Linked DNA regions of Homo sapiens. The protein of the gene in region 2 purifies or fractionates together with the protein of the main gene of each other region. This does not show direct contact. Each region holds a gene or a part of one and is shown on either strand. Other genes may lie near its edges.

The links.
Region 1: the proteins of CLEC4A (region 2) and PTK7 purify together in Homo sapiens (co-immunoprecipitation; 2 studies listed by BioGRID and IntAct, with this or other methods). This does not show direct contact.
Region 3: the proteins of CLEC4A (region 2) and ROR2 purify together in Homo sapiens (co-immunoprecipitation; 2 studies listed by BioGRID and IntAct, with this or other methods). This does not show direct contact.

Annotation. Positions count from the first base shown.
Region 1 is NC_000006.12:43,155,728-43,162,746, reverse strand, and holds the end of PTK7 (inactive tyrosine-protein kinase 7 isoform a precursor), read right to left. Parts: intron 3,931-7,019; coding exon 3,779-3,930; intron 2,960-3,778; coding exon 2,781-2,959; intron 2,027-2,780; coding exon 1,866-2,026; 3' UTR 1,032-1,865; downstream 1-1,031. UniProt on the Homo sapiens protein: Inactive tyrosine kinase involved in Wnt signaling pathway. Component of both the non-canonical (also known as the Wnt/planar cell polarity signaling) and the canonical Wnt signaling pathway.
Region 2 is NC_000012.12:8,118,948-8,127,143, reverse strand, and holds the start of CLEC4A (C-type lectin domain family 4 member A), read right to left. Parts: upstream 3,528-8,196; 5' UTR 3,266-3,527; coding exon 3,184-3,265; intron 1,584-3,183; coding exon 1,467-1,583; intron 668-1,466; exon of another isoform or gene 1-667. UniProt on the Homo sapiens protein: C-type lectin receptor that binds carbohydrates mannose and fucose but also weakly interacts with N-acetylglucosamine (GlcNAc) in a Ca(2+)-dependent manner. Involved in regulating immune reactivity.
Region 3 is NC_000009.12:91,722,698-91,730,814, forward strand, and holds part of ROR2 (tyrosine-protein kinase transmembrane receptor ROR2 isoform 1 precursor), read right to left. Parts: intron 4,047-8,117; coding exon 3,844-4,046; exon of another isoform or gene 3,750-3,843; intron 2,411-3,749; coding exon 965-2,410; 3' UTR 1-964. UniProt on the Homo sapiens protein: Tyrosine-protein kinase receptor which may be involved in the early formation of the chondrocytes. It seems to be required for cartilage and growth plate development. Phosphorylates YWHAB, leading to induction of osteogenesis and bone formation.

The DNA of each region.
Region 1 (7,019 bases), on a different chromosome or scaffold from region 2:
ACAAGTGCATGTCGCCACACCTGGCTAATTTTTAAATTTTTTGTAGAGACAGGGTCTCACTATGTTGGCCAGGCTGGTCTCAAACTCCTGGTCCCAAGTGATCTTCCTGCCTCAGTCTCCCAAAGTATTAGGATTACAGGTGTGAACCACCATGTCCAGCCTGCTGTTATTTTTATTATTCAGAAGTTTGGTGAGGAGTAAAGGAACTAGAGCAGTTTTGGAGTTCAGGACTCGTTTCTTTTGGATGGTGAACCAGGCTGAAGTTACTGGAATGAGGCAGAGGATAGGTGAGGACACAAGATCCAGGCATTAAGCACCGTCTCTCTGCTTGGTTCTACCTACTTCACTTCCCTCCTAGGGTCTTGAAAGGACTCAGAGACCTGAGTCTGTCACTAACTCCTTCTCCAATCCTACTCTAACTTGCTCCCCTTCACGCTTCTACCCTCCCCATCTGAGCACAAGGATTAGGCCCGTCTAGGTGACAGTCAGAGGACAGCACAGGGTTGCACAGACAACAGGTGATCTTGCCTTCTTCATGCCTGCATGCTCACCTGCCCTGCAAACTGGAGAGAAGAACCAATATCCACCGGTTCATCCTGTCCAAGCCCCACCAGACTCCATGAAGGCACATGGCCCTTTCATTTTTCTCTTTTTTTTTTTGTTTTTTTTTAGACAGAGTCTCGCTGTCACCCAGGCTGGAGTGCAGTGGTGTGATCTCGGTTCACTGCAACCTACATCTCCTGGGTTCAAGCGATTCTCCTGCCTCAGCCTCCCAAGTAGCTGGGATTACAGGCGCCTGCCACCATGTCCAGCTAATTTTTATATTTTCAGTAGAGACAGGGGTTTCACCTTTTTGGCCAGGCTGGTCTCGAACTCCTGACCTCAGGTGATCCACTGGCCTCAGCCTCCCAAAGTGCTGGGATTACAGGCATGAGCCACTGCACCCGGCCTGCACACGGCCCCTTCTCATCAGCGGGGGAAAAAGGAACATCTTCCACGAGCAAGAGCAGGGAATGAATCTCAGAAACAGGTTGTAAAAAAGGCTTATTTATTGAGAGCAGCGAGTGTAAAAACAAAAACAAAAACAAAAAAACAAAACAAACAAAAAACGACAACAATAAAAGTGTGGGGTAAGGATGGCCCACCCTCCTCATCTCCAGGGCCCACCCCTACCTCCCATGCCCACCCACCCCACGCTGCAATTACATATAAAAGCCGCCCGTGGTGCATACAAAAAGGGCGGTTTATATAGTGTCAAAAGCTCCTGAAAACTCCTTCATCTGCCAGGCACTTAGGATGAGGAAAGGAGAGAAGGGTGGGGAAGACGTGGGTCTGGGTCAGTGTGCACAAGCCCAGAGTGGGGAGGACTCACTTGCTGTGTCCTCTATAATCCTGGTCTAGACCCCCAAGTGGGACCAGTGGGCCAAGAGACTCATTAACCCTGTGTGCCCAGAACTTGAGAATATTAAGGAACTCCCCACAAACCCAGCTCATCCCAAGCCTAGCCCTCCCCAGGCAAAGTTGGCAGATGAGTGGCAGAGTTGGACCCGGTCAAGGGGAGAAGTTGAAGGCCAGAAATTGGGGTTACCTGTGGCACCCACACTGTCCCTGATAGAGGAAGAGGTGGCAGGGAAAACTGCCCAGCTCAAAGCCCTAGTCGCCCAGTTTGGGTCCAAGTCAGCCTCCCAAAGGATGAGGGTGAGGAAGAGGAGGAAAGGCCAGGCCCTGCTCAGACCTCAGCAATGCCTGTTGCACTAGGGCAGGGGCCTCAGGGCCCAGGAGGACAGGGATCTTGCCCATCATGCTGTGAGCTTCCCTCTAGAGATGTCCTCCCCTGCCCAGGCCATCCTGAGCGGGCTCCCTCCTCACGGCTTGCTGTCCACGGTGCTGTCTCCCAGGGCGCTGGCAATCTCACTGAAGGAGGGCCGGTCCTTGGGGCTGAGGGCCCAGCAGCGCTGCATCAGCCGATAGAGTTTGGAAGGGCAGCCCTCGGGCTGAGGAAGTCTAGCCTTCCCAGCCTGCAAATCTGTAGGGAAGACAGCAGGTGCAGTGTTGGCCAAAACATTCAACAACTTGTTCAACACTTTGTGGACCTTGCAGTTTATACAAGCAGCCACCCAAGGATGCCTCTGGGGCAATGCTGGCCAGCGGCAGGTGGGTACCCGCAACGGAAAAAGATGACTCCCCTGGCCCCACTCACTCTGGCTGGTAGGACGGGGTCCATGCATAGGAGCTGAAGTGGGCTGGCGGACAGGCGTCAGAGTGGCTGGAGTGGGCACTGGGGGCAAAGGCTATTTACCAACCAATATAGAAGTATTGCAGTATTTTCGGCCAGGTGTGGTGGCTCACGCCTGCAATCCCAGCACTTTGGGAGGCCGAGGCGGGTGGATCACAAGGTCAGGAGTTTGAGACCAGCCTGACCAACATGGTGAAGCCCCCCCATCTCTACTAAAAATACAAAAATTAGCCAGGGAGTGGAGGTGCGTGCCTGTAATCCCAGCTACTAGGGAGTCTAAGGCAGGAGAATCGCTTGAACCCAGGAGGCAGAAGTTGCAGTGAACGGAGATCGGGCCACTGCACTCCAGTCTGGGCGACAGGGCGACACTCCGTCTCAAAAGAAAAACAAAGTATTGCAGTATTTTAACAACCAGAGTGGTTGTATCTGTGTGCCTGCTCAGTAGCAGCCCTGAGAGGGAGGTAGGCTGAACCAGCCCTGGGGCCCTGAGTAGGCCCCATCTGGGGCCCATCTGGAATCATCCCCTAGCAGCAAGGCTGCCTACCTGCCAGTACTTCATCATCTGCCTGCCCACCATGGGGCATCTCTCCATGTGTAAACACTTCCCACATCAGCACACCGAAGGCCCAGACATCAGACTTGGTAGAGAAGTCACCCTCCAGGATGGCCTCGGGGGACATCCAGCGCAGCGGCACCCAGGCCTGGCGGAAGTGGTAGTACTCACTGCAGGAGAGAAGCAACCCAGGGGTGAGGTGGGGTGGGAGCGTGGCCTGGCGCTGCACCCTCATCTCCCCATCTGGAACGCATCCCCAAGCCGGGGGCCCAGCCTTTCTACATACAGACATCAAGAAATTGGTCACATGCGTGCTGAGCATGGGAGTACACTAGACAAAATCTGGAGGTAACCACACGAGAGGTTTGATGGTTAAAAAATTTCCATTAAGAATCAAACTTTGCCTAAATGTTAACAGAAAAGTTAATAGTCATACATACTTTCTATATTGGTTGTAAAAATGTAAAAACTAAGAACTGTTAAATGGAAAGAGCTTTATTAGTGATAAACCAATCCTCACTACAGCTATAGTCAGACAAATGGGGGTGACCTGGAACCAGAGGGACTCAGGGTGATGTTCCCGGCAGCGCTGCAGAGCCCTCGTAGGCTGTCTAGAGCAAGCTCTGGCATGGGTGCTGAGGCATAAGTCTCAGACTTCAAAATAATAATGACTGAATTCAGGAAGTTACAGAGAGAGCCATATAAATAGATTATATATAAATCCTTATCAAATTTGCCTATTTTTTAAAAAAGGTTTATTTATTTATTTAATCGCTAGAGACATTTTACAACCACCAAGGGTGTGCACTGGGTGGGAAGCCTGCTGCACCCTTGGAAAAAGGATGAGAAAGCTCTTCCCTATCCCAGGCCCTCCAGCTTTGGACTAAGCAGGCACTAAACCCTTTCCCACACCCCCCAAACTATCTGTCCTCTGCCCCTCACCCTCTGGGAAAAAATGGGGAGCCCCCACCCCACGCATGCCCTTCTACCTGTTGTACACATCCTTGCTGAGGCCCAGGGCAGACACCTTCACTTGTCTCTGGGCACTGACCAGGCAGTTACGCGCAGCCAAGTCCTTATGCACAAAGCGGTTGTTGGACAGGTGCTCCATGCCCAGGGCTACCTGGGTGCATAGGGCCACCTGGAGAGATAAAGGGGCCTGTTAGAGCAGCCCAGGAATAGGCATCAAGATGACCACCCTCAACACAACCCTTGGTAGCGTTTCAACACTATTGGTGTGCTGCGTAGGAAGCCCAGAAGCACAACAGCCTCAGCTTCCTTCTCTGTAAAATGGGGATAATAACAGTACCTGCCTTCCTGGGTTGTTAGAAGACTGAACTAAGCAAACTAAAGTGCCTGACACCATGCTGACACACAGCAAGTGCCAGATTAAGTGAGTGGCACATGGGCCTAAGGGCACATACATAGTAACCACTTGTCCAGTGAAAAATAAGTGGGCAGAAATCATAGCTGATATTTTTTATTTTCAAGTGACAGGGTCTTGCTCTGTCACCCAGGCTAGAGTGCAGTGACATGATCACAGCTCACTGCAGCCTCTAAACTCCTGGGCTCAAGCAATCCTCCCACCTCAGCCTTCCAAGTAGCTAGGACTATAGCTGTGCATCACCATGCCCAGCTTACTTTTTTTTTTTTTCTTTTGAGACGGAGTCTTGCTCTGTTGCCCAGGCTGGAGTGCAGTGGCATGATCTCGGCTCACTTCAAGCTCTGCCTCCCGGGTTCACGCCATTCTCCTGACTCAGCCTCCCGAGTAGCTGGGATTACAGGTGCCTGCCACTACGCCCAGCTAATTTTTTTGTATTTTTAGTAGAGACGAGGTTTCACCATGTTAGCCAGGATGGTCTCGATCTCCTGACCTTGTGATCCGCCCGCCTCGGCCTTCCAAAGTGCTGGGATTACAGGCATGAGCCACTGCGCCCAGCCCCCAGCTTACTTTTTAATTAAAAAAAAAAATTCTTTACCAAGGCAGGTGGATCACCTGAGATTGGGAGTTCGAGACCAGCCTGATCAACGTGGATAAACCCAGCACTACTAAAAATACAAAAATTAGCTGGGTGTGGTGGCACATGCCTATAATCCCAGCTACTGGGGAGGCTGAGGCAGAAGAATCGCTTGAACCCAGCAGGCGGAGGTTGTGGTGAGCCGAGATTGCGCCATTGCACTCCAGCCTGGGCAATAAGAGCAAAACTCCATCTCAAAAAATATATATATATATTTCTTTGGTAGAGACGGTGTCTAGCTACGTTGCCCAGGCTGGTCTCAAATATCTAACCTCAAGCGATCCTCCTGCCTTAGCTTCCCAAAGCACTGGGATTTCAGGTGAGTGGCACCATGCCTGATCTTAGATGATATCTTTATGGGTTGTTTCTTTTTCATTTTACTTCAAAAGTCTATCTTTTCTACTAGTTGTGTTAAAAATATGTGTGTGTATGCTGGGCATGGTGACTCATGCCTGTAATCCCAGCACTTTGGGAGGCTGAGGCAGGAGGACTGCTTAACCTCAGGAGTTTGTGACCAGTCTGGGCAACATAGTGAGACTCTATTAAAAAAAAAAAAAAAAAAAGAAAAAAAAAAATATATATATATATATATATATATATATATATATATATAGCGTGTGTGTCTGTGTGTGTGCACGCACGTGTGTGTATGTGTTAAGGCATATAGACCCATATGACTGGCTGCCTCCAAGGAACGGAACTGGAGGCTAGAAGGTAGAAAGGTAAGAAAACTTCTGGCTTACATTTTTTTGTGGGAAAAAAAAAAAAAAACCACAATCCAACAATGCTAGCACTCAAGAGTTCCTTCCCAACCATATGTTCTCCCTCCCCTCAAGGAGTAACCACTACCCTGACTTTTGTGATAATTTCTTTCTTGTTCTTTGTAGTTTACCACTTACATGTTCCTAGATAATATAATTCCATTTTGCCTGTTTCAGAGCCAGATTAAAACTGGAAGCACACAAAATGTATACTCTTTTGTGCCTGGATTTTTTTTTTTTTTCACAACATTGTAAGATTCTTTTGTTTGTTTGCTTGTTTTGAGACCAAGTCTCGCTCTTGTCACCCACGCTGGAGGGCAGTGGTGCGATCTCGGCTCACTGCAAACTCCACCCCGCTGGGTTCAAGTGATTCTCCTGCCTCAGCCTCCCAAGTAGCTGGGATTACAGGCGCGCACTACCACGCCTAGCTAATTTTTGTATTTTCAGTAGAGATGGGGTTTCATCATGTTGGCCAGGATGGTCTCGATCTCGTCCTCATGATCCACCCTCCTCAGCCTCCCAAGTGCTGGGATTACAGACATGAGCCACTGTGCCCGGCCTTTATTTTTTGAGATAGGGTCTCACTCTGTCACCCAGGCTGGAGTACAGTGATGGTGATCACGGTTCACTGCAGCCTCGCCCTCCTGGACTCAAGTGATCCTCCCAACTCAGCCTCCTGTGTAGCTGGGACAAAAATGTGTACCATCAATCCCAGCCTTTTTTATTTTTGTATTTTTTTGTAGAGACGGGGGTCTCCTTATGTTGCTCAGGCTGGTCTCAAACTCCTGGGATCAAGCAATCCTTCCATCTCTGCCTCCCAAACTGCTGGGATCACAGGTGTGAGCCACTGGGCCAGCCAGGTTAATTTTTTTAAATCACTGGACATGGTCTGTTTTTCATTATAAACATCTCATATTTTAATTCTTTTTTTTTTTTTTTTTTTTTTTTTTGAGACAGGGTATTGCTCTGTCACCCAGGCTGGAGTACAGTGGCATGACCTCAGCTCACTGCAACCTCTGCCTCCCAAGTTCCAGTGACTCTCGTGCCTCAGCCTCCCAAGCAGCTGGGATTACAGGTGCCCACCATGACACCCAGCTAATTTTTGTATTTTTAGTAGAGATGGGGTTTCACCACATTGGTCAGGCTGGTCTTGAATTCCTGACCTCAAGTGATCAGCCTGCCTCAGCCTCCCAAAGTGCTGGGATTACAGGCGTGAGCCACCACGCCTGGCCTCATACTTTAATTCTAATGCCAATGGGTTGTTTCCAGTTTGGGGCTATTAAGAACAGCGTTATTATGAACACTTTTATAAGTGTACACATGTATGAGTTTCTCTAAGATACCTAAGACGAAGTCTAGAATATGAATATCTCTAGCTATACAAAATAATGCCCAACTCTTTTCCAAAGTGAAAGAGTTGGGGAGATTTTTCATTCATTAATACTCTTTTT
Region 2 (8,196 bases):
ATGAGTGAGTTCAGCCAGGACTGGGGAAATCTCCCAACTGACACCAGTCTCAATTGCCAAGACACAGATTTATGAGCTAAATAAATAGTTGCTGTTTTAATCCACTAAGTTTTAGATTGGCTTATTAACCAGCAAAAGATAATTGATAAAATAACCTTTAGGAGGGAAAAAATCCAAACTCTTTATCATGATATACAGCAGTCTTCATGATCTGAGTCCTGTTTCTTTCTGCCACCTACAACTTCATTTCTTAGTTCTTTACTTAGCACCATATGTTCCAGTCATGCATACTTACGTTTCCCCAAATTCCATGCTCTCTCATATCTCTAGGTCATTCTTGGTACACACAGCTCTAGATGTCACCTCCTCCGGAAAGCCTACCTCAGCCTCTTGCACTTATTATACTTCTTAACTGTACAACACTTACCATACAATGTTATAACCACTGGTTCATTTTATCATTCTCTAAATTTCTTGAGACCAGGGGCTGTGGCTCTGTCTTGACTCTCTGTCTGGCACAGTGCCTGACATACAGTAGATGGACAATACTTATGAAATGACCAAAGAAATTAATAAAGAATCTACCTAAATGTATACTGCTTTTTATGCCTTTTAAAAATTTTGAGCCAGGCGTAGTGACTCATGCCTGTAATCCCAGCACGTTAGGAGGCTGAGGTAGGCAGACTGCTTGAGCCCAGGAGTTCAGGACAAGGCCAGGAAACATGAGAAAACCCTGTCTCTACTAAAAATACAAAAAAAAAAAAAAAAAAAATTAGCTGAGCATAGTGATGCACACCTGTAATCCCAGCTACTTGGGAGGCTGGGGTGGGAGAATCGCTTGAACCTGGGAGGTGGAGGTTGCAGTGAGCCAAGATTGCACCAATGCACTCCAGCCTGGGTGACAGAACCAGGGGGAATAAAACTCAACAAATGCTGAAAGCCAAAGATACGCAGCAATCCACCTAATTTGCAAAATTGACTTTTAGATCCCACACAGTCTTGAGCAGGGCAGGAATAATCAGAGTAAAAGCCAGTGGAGAACTCTTCCTGAAATATTTCTTCCCATCTCCTTGTTGTCTACCTGCTCATCCCAAAACATAAATGTCTGTGCATTCAAATCAGACTGGCCTGATAAATGCTACCAAGGAAACATAGATTTGTCCTCACTTACATAGTGTCTAGTATAGAGATGATGCCCCATAGATTTCACTCTACAACACAAATACATACACCCACATTTATGCTTCAGTTTCTCTAAATGAGAAGGGATTCCATTATTTTTACAGGACAGTAACTAAATCCAAATAAAGAGCAAAATTCACAGTGGATTCCCATGAATTATGTCTCCCCAGAGAAAATTTCATTTCAGATTTCTGGATAAGCTCATTTTCAAAAGTCAGTTTTTAAAGGATACCCTCTGTTCATGGACAGCAGATATTGCTTATTGGTTCAGTTGGCATACTTACTGACAAAAGCAATAAAGAATGAGATTGCCAATAGCAGGAAAAATATCAACAGTGAGGCACAAAGCAGCTTGGGGAATCCGGTATTACTTTTGTGAGGGGCAGTCCTCTCCTTGGAAGCTGAAGAAGAAGCCAAATTAGTTTTATCAGTAATAAGTTTGGTCTTTACTTCCTCTTCTTCCTCCTCCTCTTTCTCTCTCTTTTCTTGGATGACACACAGTTACTAACGGTATGACATTTGAAATCACATGAGAATAGGAATAGAAAGGATATAATAATATTCACTGTAGAAACTTTAAAAAATACATAAAAGTACGAATTCCTACAATTGAGGATAACTGTTATGCCATATAACTTATAATATACCATAATATTTTGGTATATATCTTTCTAGCAATTTTTTGAATGTATATATACACATATGCAAATTTTCCCACGATTGACATACCATAAATACTGATTTCTGACCTATTATTTTCCTTTACACTATATCATGAACATTTTTCATACCATTATATTTTCTTCTTTAACACTCCTTATTATGGTTGCATAGTATTTCATCATATATTTAAATAATGGTTTCCAACTTTAAATAATGCTATAGCAAATAAATCTTTATAATCATTCCTCATCACATGTTTAGAATAAAGTCAGTCTTTTTAGTTACCATCTCATGGTTAGGAATCACTTTCTTCGAGTTATGATATTTTGTCAAATGATGGGGGAAAAAAATTCAGTATTATATAATATGATTACATTTTTAGTAAAATACATATGCACATTATATGTATTTGTATGTGGAAGGATATTCACTAAATTGCAAATTATGATTTTCTCTAGATGATAAGAGTAATTATAATTCAAATATCTGTGTACCTCTGGTTAATTTTTTCTACAATGAACATTAATACTTGTGTAATAAAGAAATTATATAAAGTTTTTAAGGAGAAAAAATTTCCCTAAGTGCTCTCCACACCTTCACAGAGGTATTTTAGAAAGCGTAACTATAGTCCTGACCCCTTCCCCCATAGTTTCTTGTACTCTATATACATTCTTTTCTCTCTTTTGCTCTATACTTGAGATATCACACATGACACCCAAATCACCTTGCATCTACTCCCAAACGTAACAGAGTCTGTCTCAGAGATGCAACACGCAATAGGTTCTCTGATTTCAGAAAAAGTTTCCTGGAGATTTAAGAGACTTTCTTTGTAGACTTTCTAGTCTTTCATTTGCAAAGGCCTTTTGTTACATTTCCATCCATTACCAACAAATATACCCTCACCACTGTCCACCCAAACTCTTTCCCTCTAACTGATCAAAAAACAAATCTCACAAATTCATCAGGACCCCCTGCATCTGGATTGATGGTTTCAGAAGCTGTACTCAATCTCTTAACCCCAGCCCCACTCAGCCTCAGAAAACACAGGGGCATCAGAGCACTCGCCTTAGCTCAGAACTGGAGTGGATTTCTCTCACCTCTGTTTCAGTAAGCAGAGTGGAGGCTGAAGAGAGTGGCACAAAATCTTTTCTTCTCCACAATACAAATGTACACCCCGTAATGCGTATCTGCAGGCCACTCAATCTTCTGGGACTCTTGTGTTTCCCAGACATACTCAATCAGACAACCAGCAACTGAAAACACCTATGCCTTATTCATAAACCCTCTCCTCATCCTTCACCTCGTCATTCACTCTGACCCCTAGAAAATGATCTTTACCTGCAGAAGAGGCTGTGTTGATGCCTGAGGACTTGAATTCATTTTTGAACCTCACTTCAGCATAAGTGATTTCCGAAGTCATAATGGGAAGAGAGCTTCTGCTTTCTTCAGAAAATCTGTTTCAGATCTTTCTTAAAACATCTTATAAACAGGAACCAAACATGGTGGTAAATTACCTCCTTCCTTTCACTCAACTAGTGGAGAGCAGAGGCACCAGATAGGCACATATCCTCAAGAGGGGTCTCATGAGAACTAAGAACCACAATAAAAACTAAAAACCGCAGTTCACAGAAGCCCTTTCCTCAGGACCAGTATAGTGAGAATCACAGCCTTGAAACAAATGCAAGCAAATGCAATAAAAGTGGGAACTCAAAGGGTTGCGGAAAGAGGAAGAAAAATAAAAGAAGAACCAAGCACTTAGAGTCTTTCTGGAGAACTGCGTTTTTCACCAGTAAAAAATACAATTTCTGTGCTTCCACACACAAATGTAATTACTTTTGACCAAACATCCTGAACATAGACTTATGTTGCATTCATCTCATCAATTTTGACTGATCAGGCAACTTGTTAGTACCACATTCTAAGAGTATCATTGACACAAAACTCACATATCAGCCTCCCCACCTTCACGAATTAGTTTCCTGTAGCATGGTGGGGATGGCAAAGTTTAAACCCCATGTCTTCTGAAGCTGTTCCTCCATGCTCTCTGTGTTTCCTTGTTGGTAACTAACTCTATCAAAAGTCTGCATTCATCTTGCTAGAATCTCCAGAAAGCAGCTCCCTTTACTGGATGTTGGAGGAGAGGGAAGGCCAGCCTTTATTCCATGCTTCCCTAACCTTTTAATCGCCACATCACCTCCAATATATATGACTATTTTTTAACAGTTAGGAGAATTATATAGAATCACAGTATAGAAGGGGATAAACTTAAACAAAGTACTAAATATGACTTTTTCCAAAGGCCTAGAAGAAAACACTCCAAATATTAAATCCTTCATGTGGAATCTCTCCATAGACATGCTCCCAGCTCACACCTGGATTCTCTGCCCTCAACTCTCCGCAAATGATCCTCCTTTTAATCTCCCCCAGCTGATTCCTTCTCCTGCATAACACACATGCATACATGCATGCACACACACACAAACACACACGTCTATATTTCTATATTATTTCTATATCTAAATATATTGAACACCATGAGTTCACACTAATTCCTCTAATTCCAATCTAACACCACAAGTTTCATTCTAGTTTTCTCCCTTCCCACATTCCTAACTCCTTTCTGTGACACTAAGAAACCTGCTTTCATTGTCTTTCACTTATTCCTTATTTGATCAATCTCCTGGATGTCGTCAATCTCCCACCTGCTAAGATGTCCCTCTCTTCCTAGTTGGGCTCTGACTCCCCAGTCCAAGCCACCATCCCCTGCGCGGATGCCCTCCCTCCTCACTCTGAGAGTGCCGGCAAAGGGCCAGCCCACTCCCCACCCCCATGAACATCCCCCAACAAACATCCCCCTCACCCTGCCAAGGCTCTGACTCCCTGTGCTAGGCCATTCCTCTGCAGGAAAGCCCTCCTCACTCTGCTTGCACTCTGATTCCTGATGCTGGTCCCCTAGTCACCACTTAGACCCCCTTAGGTTCTAATGCTCCACACAAGGTCACCCTATGGGTGGAAGCCCTCCTCACCCTGGAGGGGTCTGATTTCCTCACCGGGCTATCCTACCACATGGACCACCTCCTTATCCTGCTAAGTTTCTGAAACCCACACCAAGTCCTCCCTCTGCATAGAAGCTTTCTTCATCCTGCTTGGGCTCTGACACTCCATGCAGGTCCTCCATCCCCCAGCAATAATGTCCATCTTACCCTACTTAGGATCTGAGTTCCCTCACTGGGCTACCCCACCACATGGACACCCTCCTTATCATGCTTGGTCTCTGAAACCACACCAGGTCTACCCTCTGCAAGGATGCTCTCTCTCCTCATCCTGCTTAAGTGCTGAGTCCCAACCCCAACTGGGCCAACACTAGGCATGGGTGCCCTCCTCACCTCTCCCACATGCTGACATACATACCAGGCTGGCCCTAGAGTACTCTGCTCAGCCATTTGCGACTCTGACTCCCTATAGAAGGTAACCTCATACATGGATGCCCTCCTCACCCTGCTTGCACTCCAACTCACTGCACCTGACTATCCCACCACATAGATGCCTTCTTTACCTCTCAGACTCTGACCTCTCACATCAGGCTACCCCTACTATGGACACCCTCCTCAATCTTATCCTCTGACACCCTGCACTGGGCCATTGCCAGGAGTGGACATCTCCTCGCTCTGGTTCCCCATGCCAGGACACTTTCCCACCCCTAAGGGATGTTCTTCTCACTCTGCTTGGGCTCCAGAACCACTGTCAAGCCAATACCCTGCATAGTCACCCTTCTCACCCTGCTAAAGCTCTCCCCCTGTGCCAGGCCACTGCTGCTCTCCCAGCCACCTCACCATAGACACCTATCTTGCTACTGCTTTATTTAGAATCAAATTATTTAGTAAGAAAAGGGAAAGGGGAATGACAAAGCATAAGGGAAGGATAAGGGAATTTTAAGTTCTCCACAAATTAATGATTGGGCCTAACCAGCACATGCACGTAGACAGGTATACATGCACACATATTCCCTGAAATAACAATCATTGATTCTCAGAGTCTTTACAATCTAAGCTCATAATTAGAAAGCAAACCATATTCCTAAAACTATAGCTCTCTCCCTGGAATAAGTCACATTATAACTGGATTACACCGTATCACCAACAACCCCAAAATCCAAGTGGCTTACAACAACAAACATGTATTTCTCACTTACATTACACTTGTGCTTAGGGCCACCTTGGAGTTGACTGCAACTCTGCTTGGCCCCTCTCCAAGTGTTTTCTCATTCTGGAAGCTGAGATCACAGAATAGCTCCTTGTAAGCTGAACCATGTAGTAGCATCCTTTATTCAGATAAGGTGTACGTTGTATTTGCTCTGATTCTGTTGGCCAATGCAAGTTACCTGAACAAACCTGCAAGTGAGACAGGGAAATATACTTTGTCTACAGAAAGACATGTCAAGGGTATCAAAGTTTAATCCTTTCACAAAGGAGAACACAGACATTTGGAAACAATAATAGAATCTATCCCCTTATCCCTTTAAATTATTTATCCAAGAGATCTCTTGGGCAGTGATCTCCAAAATGGGGCACAAGTACCTTAGGCAGTATAAAAGAGGATCTGCTAAGGCACAGAGAAAAAAACACTAAAACATCTATTTACATTTATTTAAAGTTTTAAGGAAGATAAGCTTTACTAGTATTGATTGCATGTCATGTGTGGTATGGTACCTATTATGAGGGAAGACTGGAAGTTCCACAACTCTGAGAGGCTGACAGTGTGCCTTCACTTGTTCGTTCACTCTCTGAATATTGCATCATGTTGCAGTTAACCTAGGTAATAAAGAATTTGCCTGGATTTTGTTCCCACTTCCTGGAGGTAGCCTTTAAATCCTTGGAATTTTCCAAATAATAGGATTGTCTTTGTTATTCATGGTGGGCCCGTATATCTCATGCTAATGAGGTCTCTCATGATGGGCTCTAAGATAGTTTATGCTAAGAAGGTGATTCAGGGTGGGGCTGGCCATGCCGGAAAGACCAGTCATGTGATTGGCGCATTGAAGCCCTGAGCCATGTTATATCAGCCCAGGTGGGGAAGGGAAGCTAGAGACTGAGTTCAACTTGTGACCAATGGTTCAATCAATCATGCCTACATAATGGACCCCAGTAAAAACTCTGGGCACTGAAGCTCCCCTGATTGGCAATACTCTGTGTATTATCACACATTAAAGTTCTAAGAAAGTGATATATCAATGGGGTCAATGGAAATTTCCATTTAGGACCCTCTCAGTCCTTACCCCATGCATCTCTCCCTCTGGCTGGTTCTGATTTGTATCCTTTTGCTATAATAAAACTGCAATCATAAGCATGGCACTATCCTGAGTTCAGTGAGTCATTCTAATAAATCATAAAACCTGAAGGGATCATGGGAAACCCCAAATTTGTAGTCAGTTGATCAGGAGTGAGGACACCCCTGGGAACCCCTGAACTTGTGGCTGGTATCTGAAGTAATGGCAGTCTTATGAAGGGCGTGCCCTCAACCTGTGAAATTTGGCCTAAGTCCAGGTAGTTGATATCAGAAGTCAATTTAATAGCTCAGTATTGTTAATTTCATGAAAACAAGATATTCGTTAGACTATTTATATTGATATGATGGCAAGTGACCATTCTGTTCACTGTGAAATTAATCTCAGTATTTAGAAGTAAGGATGGAGTAAATAGGGCACTTTTATTTTTAAAGATTTTTTACTGTTTGATATTTTATAAGCATGTATTTCTTTCATAATAAAAAGACACAGGCTAGGCATGGTAGCTCATGCCTGTAATCCCAGCACTTTGGGAGGCCAAGGCGGGTGGATCACCTAAGGTCAGGGGATCGAGACCAGCCTGACCAACATGGTGAAACCCCATCACTACTAAAAATACAAAATTAGCCAGGCGTGGTGGTGCATGCCTATAAGCCCAGACACTAGGGAGGCTGAGGCAGGAGAACCACTTGAACCTGGGAGGCAGAAGTTGCAGTGAACTGAGATCGCACCATTGCACTCCAGCCTGGGCAACAGTAGCGAAGCTCTGTCTCAGAAAACAAAAGCAAACAAATAAAAAATCTATCTTATTTTCACCAAAGATGAGACTAAGACCATTTTTGCAGCAAGGCTAGCTAATTCAGCTGGTATTAGCTTAGTGTTTTTGAGGTTCATCCATGTTATAGCTCATATCAGTTTCTCAGTCCATTAGTGTTGTTAACAACAAAATACCTGAGACTGGGTAATTTATAAAGAAGAGAAATTTATTTTCTCAGTTCTGGAGGTTGGGAAGCCCAAGATCAAGGCACCAGCATATTCAGTTATCTGGTGATGATTGTATCTTCTAA
Region 3 (8,117 bases), on a different chromosome or scaffold from region 2:
TAACAGGGGCTGTAAAATGAATGGACCTCATGTGCACGTGGTACAGAGAGAAGCAAACCAAGACCAACTGGATCCCAACGTGGGTAACATAAACAGTTAAATTACTAAAGTCATCTTAAGACCAAAATACTTCAATGAAAATGGCATATTAAAAACATATAAATTACATTTAAGCTCTGTACATGATTCTTAACAAAAATAACAATACCGTGTTCTGTACAATACTGCTTCCTCTGAACATTCCAAACCCAAGAAACACTTTCCCTTGAATTCCCAAAAAAAGTGGGCAAAATACACATGGAGTATAATTAAAACCATTTCACCAAATACAAAGCTGTCAGTTTCTTTGAAGGCACACATTTTGTTGTATCTCAGGAACTCCCATTTCAGAAGCCCCTTGTCTTCCGACCCCAACAGGCAGCAGAGGGCAGCCTCCGTTCCAGCGAATCTTTGGCTGCTAAAGGGAGAATATTCTCAGCAGGGAGGCAGCAGAAATGGAGCCCCTTCATCCTCAAACCAACAGACCAGATCGGTTGTCAGGAACCTCAAGACCCGAGGTGCCTCCTCGCTGCCTTTTGCAGGCCCTTATTCCCAACGTTTTGAAATATTCACTCCATATATGACATGGAGTGAAGCTGCCACCTATTTTCTTGAAAGGCATTTGCTGCTCACTACCAGTCTACCACCAGAATCAATGTATACAGCCCTGGGGATGACCATGTGTCCTGCTCCCCAGGACGCCGTGCTGCCAGACCCCCTGCCTGGCTTGGGTGCTCCTAGGCAGGGCAGCTCTCTGTGTCAGAGGACAGAGAGGAGCAGGGCTCCACCTCACCCAGTCTGCAAACAAGCCCACTGGCCGGCGGGCTCTTGTGATTGCTGAGTATGGTGTCTTCTCAAAGGTGACTGAGGTCCCTGTGGGGTCTCGGCGGGGCTTCTATCCCCGAACCCCGGGCCCTGGTGCCACTCAAGCTTCCAGCTGGACTTGGGCCTCGTCCACCTGCAGAGTGTCACAGTCCCCCAGCAGCTCAGTCTCTGGGACAGAGCCTTCCTCCTCCTCCTCTGCTTCCTGCACGGTGCTCTGGGCCCCATCTTCTGGGGCGTTCTGTGTGTCATCAGCGCCCTCTGAGAGCAGGGCTGCCCTGTCTGCCATGGATGTGTTGGAGGGGGCCGTGGTGACGTAGCCTGTGCTGGTGGAGCCACTGCCACTGTGGTGTGAGCTGGGCTTGGGGACCATCTGAGGAGGCACCTGCTGCGGGGCCATCTGCATTGGGATCTGCACCGGGTAGAAGTTGGGCAGGTAGGCCCCATAGGCCGGCACCGGCTGGTAGCCGTTGACGGGGACGTAGAGCTGCGGCGGGGGCACCATGGGTCTGATCTGGCCCTTCATGGGGATGAACTGGGGCTGTGGGAAGGGCGGGGCCTTCTGCTTGGGCCCCACGTAGCGGGCGTTGCTCACATTGCTCACTGGGCTGGTGCTCAGGGAGCTGGTCTGCGTGGTGTTGCTGGCCCCCGAGGTCTGCGCCGAGCTGTTGTAGTTGGAAAGGTTGCCCCAGGCTCGGAGCCGGCTGTGGATGTCCTTGAAGCGGGGCCGCCGGCTGGGGAACTCGTTCCAGCACTCGATCATGAGGGCATACACCCAGGCGGGACAGTCATCGGGGCAAGGCAGCACCTGCCGGTTCCGGATCATCTCCACCACATCCTGGTTGGAGTACCCGCAGTAGGGCTGCAGGCCGTAGCTGAAGACCTCCCACAGGACCACACCGTAGGACCAGATGTCTGAGTCGATGGAGAACTTGCCGTACATGATGGCCTCTGGGGCCATCCAGCGGATAGGCAGCAGCGAGTTCCCCAGCAGCTTGTAGTAATCGGCGGCATACACCTCTCGGAAGAGGCCCAAGTCTGAGATCTTCACGTTCAGCTTGTCGTACACTAGCACATTGCGGGTGGCCAGGTCCTTGTGAACCACGTGGTGGCTGGATAGGTACTCCATCCCCGCCGCGATCTGTGCCACAAGGTGCACGAAGTCGGGGGGCTCCAGGGCGGACTTCACCGTGCGGTCATCATCGGTGCTGCCCACGTCCGAGTGCGGCGAGCGCATGACCAGGAATTCGTGGAGGTCGCCGTGCGAACAGTAGCTGAAGATCATGCTCAGGGGCTGGTCCTTGGTCACCACGCCCAGCAGGCAGACGACGTTGGGGTGTTGCAGCCGTGCTCGCAGCATAGCCTCATGCCGGAACTCCTCCCGCAGGGGCCCCTCCGCTTTGTCCTTCAGCGTTTTGATGGCCACAGCCTGGGTCTGCTCCCCCGGGGCAGGGCCGAACAGGTGACCTTTGTAGACTTTCCCAAACCGGTCCTCTCCCAGCTCCTCCATGAACCTCACCGCAGACAGGCTGATCTCTTTGAGTTTGGCCTGTCAAGAAGAAAAGCCCCACGTGAAACATCACTGTCACCGCAGCCCTGGAGGAAGCTGCAGAGCAGCCGGGAGGAGTGGAGTCCCTGTGCGGCCACGACTAGGGGGGCCTTGCAGAAGACCCGCTGGTTTTGCCCACCCAGCCTTGGCCTGCCCACCCACAGCTCTCTAGTTAACCTTAAATACGGCTCTGATGCCAAGGTTGCTTCCCATCTGCAATCTTCCACAGATCCCAACCAGGCTACAAATAAGGTCCCTCCAAAATCCAGCTGGGACACACTGACTTCCTTCCCACTTGTGCATGTGTGGACACACACACACACCCTACAGCCAGGCCCAGGCACCAGCTGCCCTGGGGCTGCCCCGGACATACCCTGCCAGGTTCCCTCCAACCCCCATGTGTGCCGACACATCACGTGAGATGTGATGTCTTTTTCTCATGGACCCCACAGAGGCTTTCCCACGACATTTTTGTCTTGGCAATTTTGTCACTTATAAGAGTCCAAGCCAGTTGTTCTACAGAGGTTCCCTCAATGGGCCTGTCCATGGGCCTCTTGACTAGGGTCTCTGTTAAACATGTTCCTGGAAAGAGTACCCCACAGGTGATAGGAGCCCTGAGAACCCTGCATCTCTCTCGGCCTCTATGACACCAGCTCCTCCCGTGTGGCCAGCCCTCATCCTCCCCAGAGGTTCCTGGGCCTCCGTGCAAGCCCCGGGGCTCTGTGCCCTCCTCGCTGGCCAGCCCCTGCCCATAGCAAACTCTCACCGACTCTGGGACTGAAGAGCCAAGTGCATCAGCTCCCTCCTGGCCACCTTGAAGAGCCCCTGCAAAGCTGGCTGAGAATGATGTTACCTACGGCTTGCAATGAGTGTAAATGCCCTTTTACAACACAACCTGGAGAGGCTGCAGCACATGTTCTCATCTGTTGTATTTCAGTGCCCCACCCCCATCTAAGGCTGCTCTGGGATGAGGGGTGGCCTTTTAGTGGTAGCCTGTCCACCTACTCCCATTTAAGAGCTATTCTCCTATCCTTCCCTGTAAACAAAACAAAGCAAAACCAACCCAACCCAAAAGTGTCAAGAAAAATTATGGGGAGCATTGGAGCCCTGTTGTTCTTGTGTGTCTTCTGGGCAGAGCTGAGGCACCTGGACAGTGAGGACACTCGCTGGGGCCCACAGGGGCAGCATGGTCCAGGCAGAAGGAGGCCCATGGACTCTGGGGCAGTGAATTCCCAACACGCCTGCCATTTATTTTCTAAAGCACACATGTCCTGATCTAGTTTACAGAAAAAAAAAATGGCAAAATGAAGCGGAGTTTAAAATAATTATGTGCTATGTATCAAGTAAATTAAGACATTTAATGTTGGGGGAAACAACCCCTGAGGATTAAACCTGGAAGAGCCACCCGGGTAGAAAATGTAAGGCATGGAGACCTGTTTGTGCTGGTTAATGAGGGGCATTTCCATGTCTTGGCTGGGCGAGGCCATCAGCTGTCGCCGCTGCGGTGTGGACGCAGATGCCTTCTGCTTATTCCGGCACATGCAAACCAAGAAGAAAAGGCAAGCGATGACCAGTGGAATTGCGATGCTGGGGACCAAGATGTACAGAATCCCCATCTTGCTGCTGTCTCGGGGACCTGTGAACAATAAGGCTTTCGTGATTTTTCAGAAAACATCCCTTTTCTACTCTAAGTTCTCTACCAACCCACTCTCCACCTCCAGCCAAAATCTTCACGTGCACGTGTGTCATCACCTAAGTTACACAATGGGGTAAAAGGGCACACCACACCTTAAAAAACATGATGCACCAAAAAATGCACACCCGGCTGCATCCTGGGGAAACAAAACCCAAAACTGCCCAACCTGGAAACAAGCGGGAATATGCAGTATAAAAAGTAAATGAATTCTAATGATCTTAATAACGACCACATCCGCTTTCTGTTCCTGATGTTTGAATACCATCGGAGATAGGTGCTCTGCCCAATTTCACTTTTATCAAGGTCTCCCCAGCTACTGACAAGTTCATGAAATTCACTGGAGACCCTTGTCCAAGGTGAGTGAAACTTGGTACTGGGATTAGACACGATCCTTTTCCTCATTCAACATTTTAATGTTTTCTTCACATTTTTATCTAATGATGACAGATTCTTTTAGGGTAATAATTAAACATGCACTAGATTTAAAAGAGCACCAGTAGTCCATGCTCTTGACCCAATACAATATGCAACAGGGGCACAAGAATTCTTGGAAAGCACTGGGTACCAAGATTCAAGGCCACCAGCTACCTTCCCTGCATTTTTTTTTTTTTTAAATCACAGGGAAAAGTAACTCTTTGTCTCCCTCTACAGGATTTACAGAAAGGTACAGGGGGCACACCAGGCAGGCTGAGGTGACCTCAGATTCTGAGCAGGACTCCAGGCAGGGCTGGCTCCTCCCAGGCTGCGTGGCCCCAAGCACCCCACACGTCAAAGCAATTGAATGTAAGACAAAGTGGTGCCGTTTCAGGACGCTGACCCTAAGCCTGGTGGAAGGTGAGTTCTCTAGAGAGCCACTTTCCCACATCCCCAGAAAACCACGGTGTTCTGTTTTCTCCTTAACCTTGCAAATAACTATATCAGACTTAGAGGGCCCCATGGCCAGGGGGCAAAGCGCTTCTCATCTGGAAGCAAACAAGTGATTTCTGGTCAGTGTGAGGCCTAAAAGAGCTAACTCGGTTCTAAAAGTGAACATGCTACTGCCACCTTAGGAAAAAAGCACCTTGTCCCAAAACCCAGCCTTGCCCCACCCCTGCTCCCCCAAATAAGAAGAAATCAAGTAAAACCACAAACAAAACTTTCTTCTGGCCCCACCTAGCAGCTTCCCCTCTGAAAGGGTTCTGAGGCAGGTGTTCCAGAAATCTTCGGGGCACTGGGGATGCCGATTCATTCTTTTTTACTAGGGTTTGGTTCATTTTTCATTATTAAGGTTAGCAGGAGAGTCCAGGCCACTCTCACGCCAAGACCAGAGGTGTGAGCTCACACTGACACCATCACCTGCTTTTATTATCTACTTAACATTACCAACATGACTCATGCTTACTGGGAAAAACTGTAGTATTACAGAAATGTGGCCTTTCAAAAGATAGTATTTCTAACAGTCCTCTTTCCCAAAGGCTATAAATGGTTAAGTTTCGTGTTCTCCTAACTTTATGTATATTTTAGGTTGAACCACATGGAACAACCGATATTCAACTATTCTGACATATAGACACAGTAGTTTTATATGGTTTTCTTAATTCGAATGTTGAATGAACTTTATTTTATTTATTTTTGAGACAGAGTGTTTGTTTATTTATTTATTTTTGAGATGGAGTCTCGCTCTATCTCCTAGGCTGGAGGGCAGTGGTGGGATCTCAGTTCACTGCAACCTCTGCCCCCTGGGTTCAAGTGATTCTCCTGCCTTAGCCTCCCGACTAGCTGGGATTACAGGCGCCCGCCACCATGCCTGGCTAATTTTTATATGTTTAGTAGAGACAGGGTTTTGCACTGTTGGCCAGCCTGGTCTTGAACTCCTGACCTCAGGTGATCCGCCTGCCTTGGCCTCCCAAAGTGCTGGGATTACAGGCGTGAGCCACCACACCCGGCCTAAATGAACTTGATTTTAAATAGAATCGTGTCATCCATATTTTCCTGCTCCTGTTTTTTTGGCAGAATAAAATCTCTTGGACAGCAGCTCATGTTGGAGCAGATAGATATGTGTGTTCTCCCACAGCTGCATGCCACTCCACAGCACAGGCGTCTCCAACTGCCCCATCCAGCCCTACTGATAAACAGTCTGTTTTATGTTTAGCTCTCACAAGTGATTCTGCAATAAATATCCTTCCATTTATGCCCTGTAAGTACAAACCTGCGATACAAGATTCTAAGAATTGACTGGTCCAAAATCATACATTTTTTTCATGCTTTGATTTATTTTTAATTACAAAAGTAATTCCTACTCACTGTAAAAAAAAAAAAAAAAGTCTTGTATTTGAACACTTTTGTAGGTCTGGGGAAATCACTGCTAAAAGTTTGATATCCATCTTTCCAAAACCTCGTAAAAGTCAGGAGCCTGTGTGTGCTCACACACAAACTCCCACTCATTTTCCTTTTGCCAGAAACAAAACAATAAGCAAAAAAGCACCTCTAACACAGTTCTGTCCTACAACCTGCTTTTGTTCCTTACAGGGCACAGGGCCATCCTTCATTGCAGGACAGCTTTAAGGTCTGGAGTGCTCCAGAGTGCCTAGACCGCAATTTGAATGACTGATAATTTCATTCTTAAAATTTGTTCTCCCATAATGAACACATTCTTGAAGATTTGTGTCTGATCTGCTGAGCCAGAGGCAATGCCAAATCTGGAGCTGCTGAATCACACATCAGGAAGGTCATTAGTGCCAGTGTTTATTTCCTGCACTTCGGAGTAGAGACACGCGGGCCTGCACCCCAGGAGGAGATCTCCAGGTGCATGGTGAGCCCAGCCTCGCTTCACCGGCTGCTCTCTCTTTATCCGCGGGTGCCCACTCATTCACCAATTGCTGCTTCCAGCTCCCAGCCCAGCCTTGGTTACCCTGCTGCCTGGACTGGTGAACCGGGCATGACTAAGACAGAGGTGAGAACTGTCGAAGCTGTCAACCATCAGCCACGTGAGCTTCCATATTCATGACATTACAGACACACTTGCAAGGAATGAGGACAAGCAATGAATTCTATTTTCGCCTCACTCCACCAAACCTAAGTGTAAAATCTGAGAAGCAGTGAAAAGCTCAAAAGCTGGTGGGTGGAAGGGAAATATTTTTACGAATATTAGGAACTACTGAGCAATAATGGTGTTTTTTGTTTTTTGTTTTTGAGAAAAGGTCTTGTTTTGTTGCCTAGACTGGAGCGTAGTGGCACCATGATGGCTCACTGCAGCCTTGAACTACTGGGCTCAAGCAATCCTCCCACCTCCACCACCCAAGTAGGTGTGCCACCACGCCTGGACAATTTTTGTATTTTTTGTAGAGACGGGTTTTTGCCATGTTGCTCAGACTGGTTTCAAGCTCCTGGGTTCAAGAGATCCACCCGTCTTGGCCTCCCAAAGTACTGGGATTACAGGTTGTGAGCCACCGCACTGGGAGATAATGTTAATGGAGAAACAAAATGTCAAAGTGAATATCCCAGGACCATCCATACATGGGAAAAGGGCTGATGGAAGGGGGTGGGCCAAAACGCAAACAAGTCACTACTGGGTGGTAACATTAGGGGTGATCTGACATTACTCTTCAGACTTTTCTATATTTTAAAATGTCTTGTAATGGTCAGATGTTACTTTCATAACAACCAATAACTTGCGTTATTTATTTATTTATTTTTGAGACAGGGTCTCACTCTGCTGTCCATGCTGGAGTGCAGTGTCACAATCTTGGCTCACTGCAACCTCCGCTTCCCAGGCTCAAGTGATTCTCCTGCCTCAGTCTCTTGAGTAGCTGGGATTACAGGCATGTGCCACCGCACCTGGCTAATTTTTGTATTTTTATGGGGTTTCACCATGTTGACCAGGCTGGTCTTGAACTCCTGACCTCAAGTGATCTGCCCACCTCGGCCTCCCAAAGTGCTGGGATTATAGGCATCAGCCACTACGCGTGGCCCAACAGCTTTATTTAAAATGGTCACTGTGGTAAGATCAGGGGTCTCTGGTCGCCACCGTAC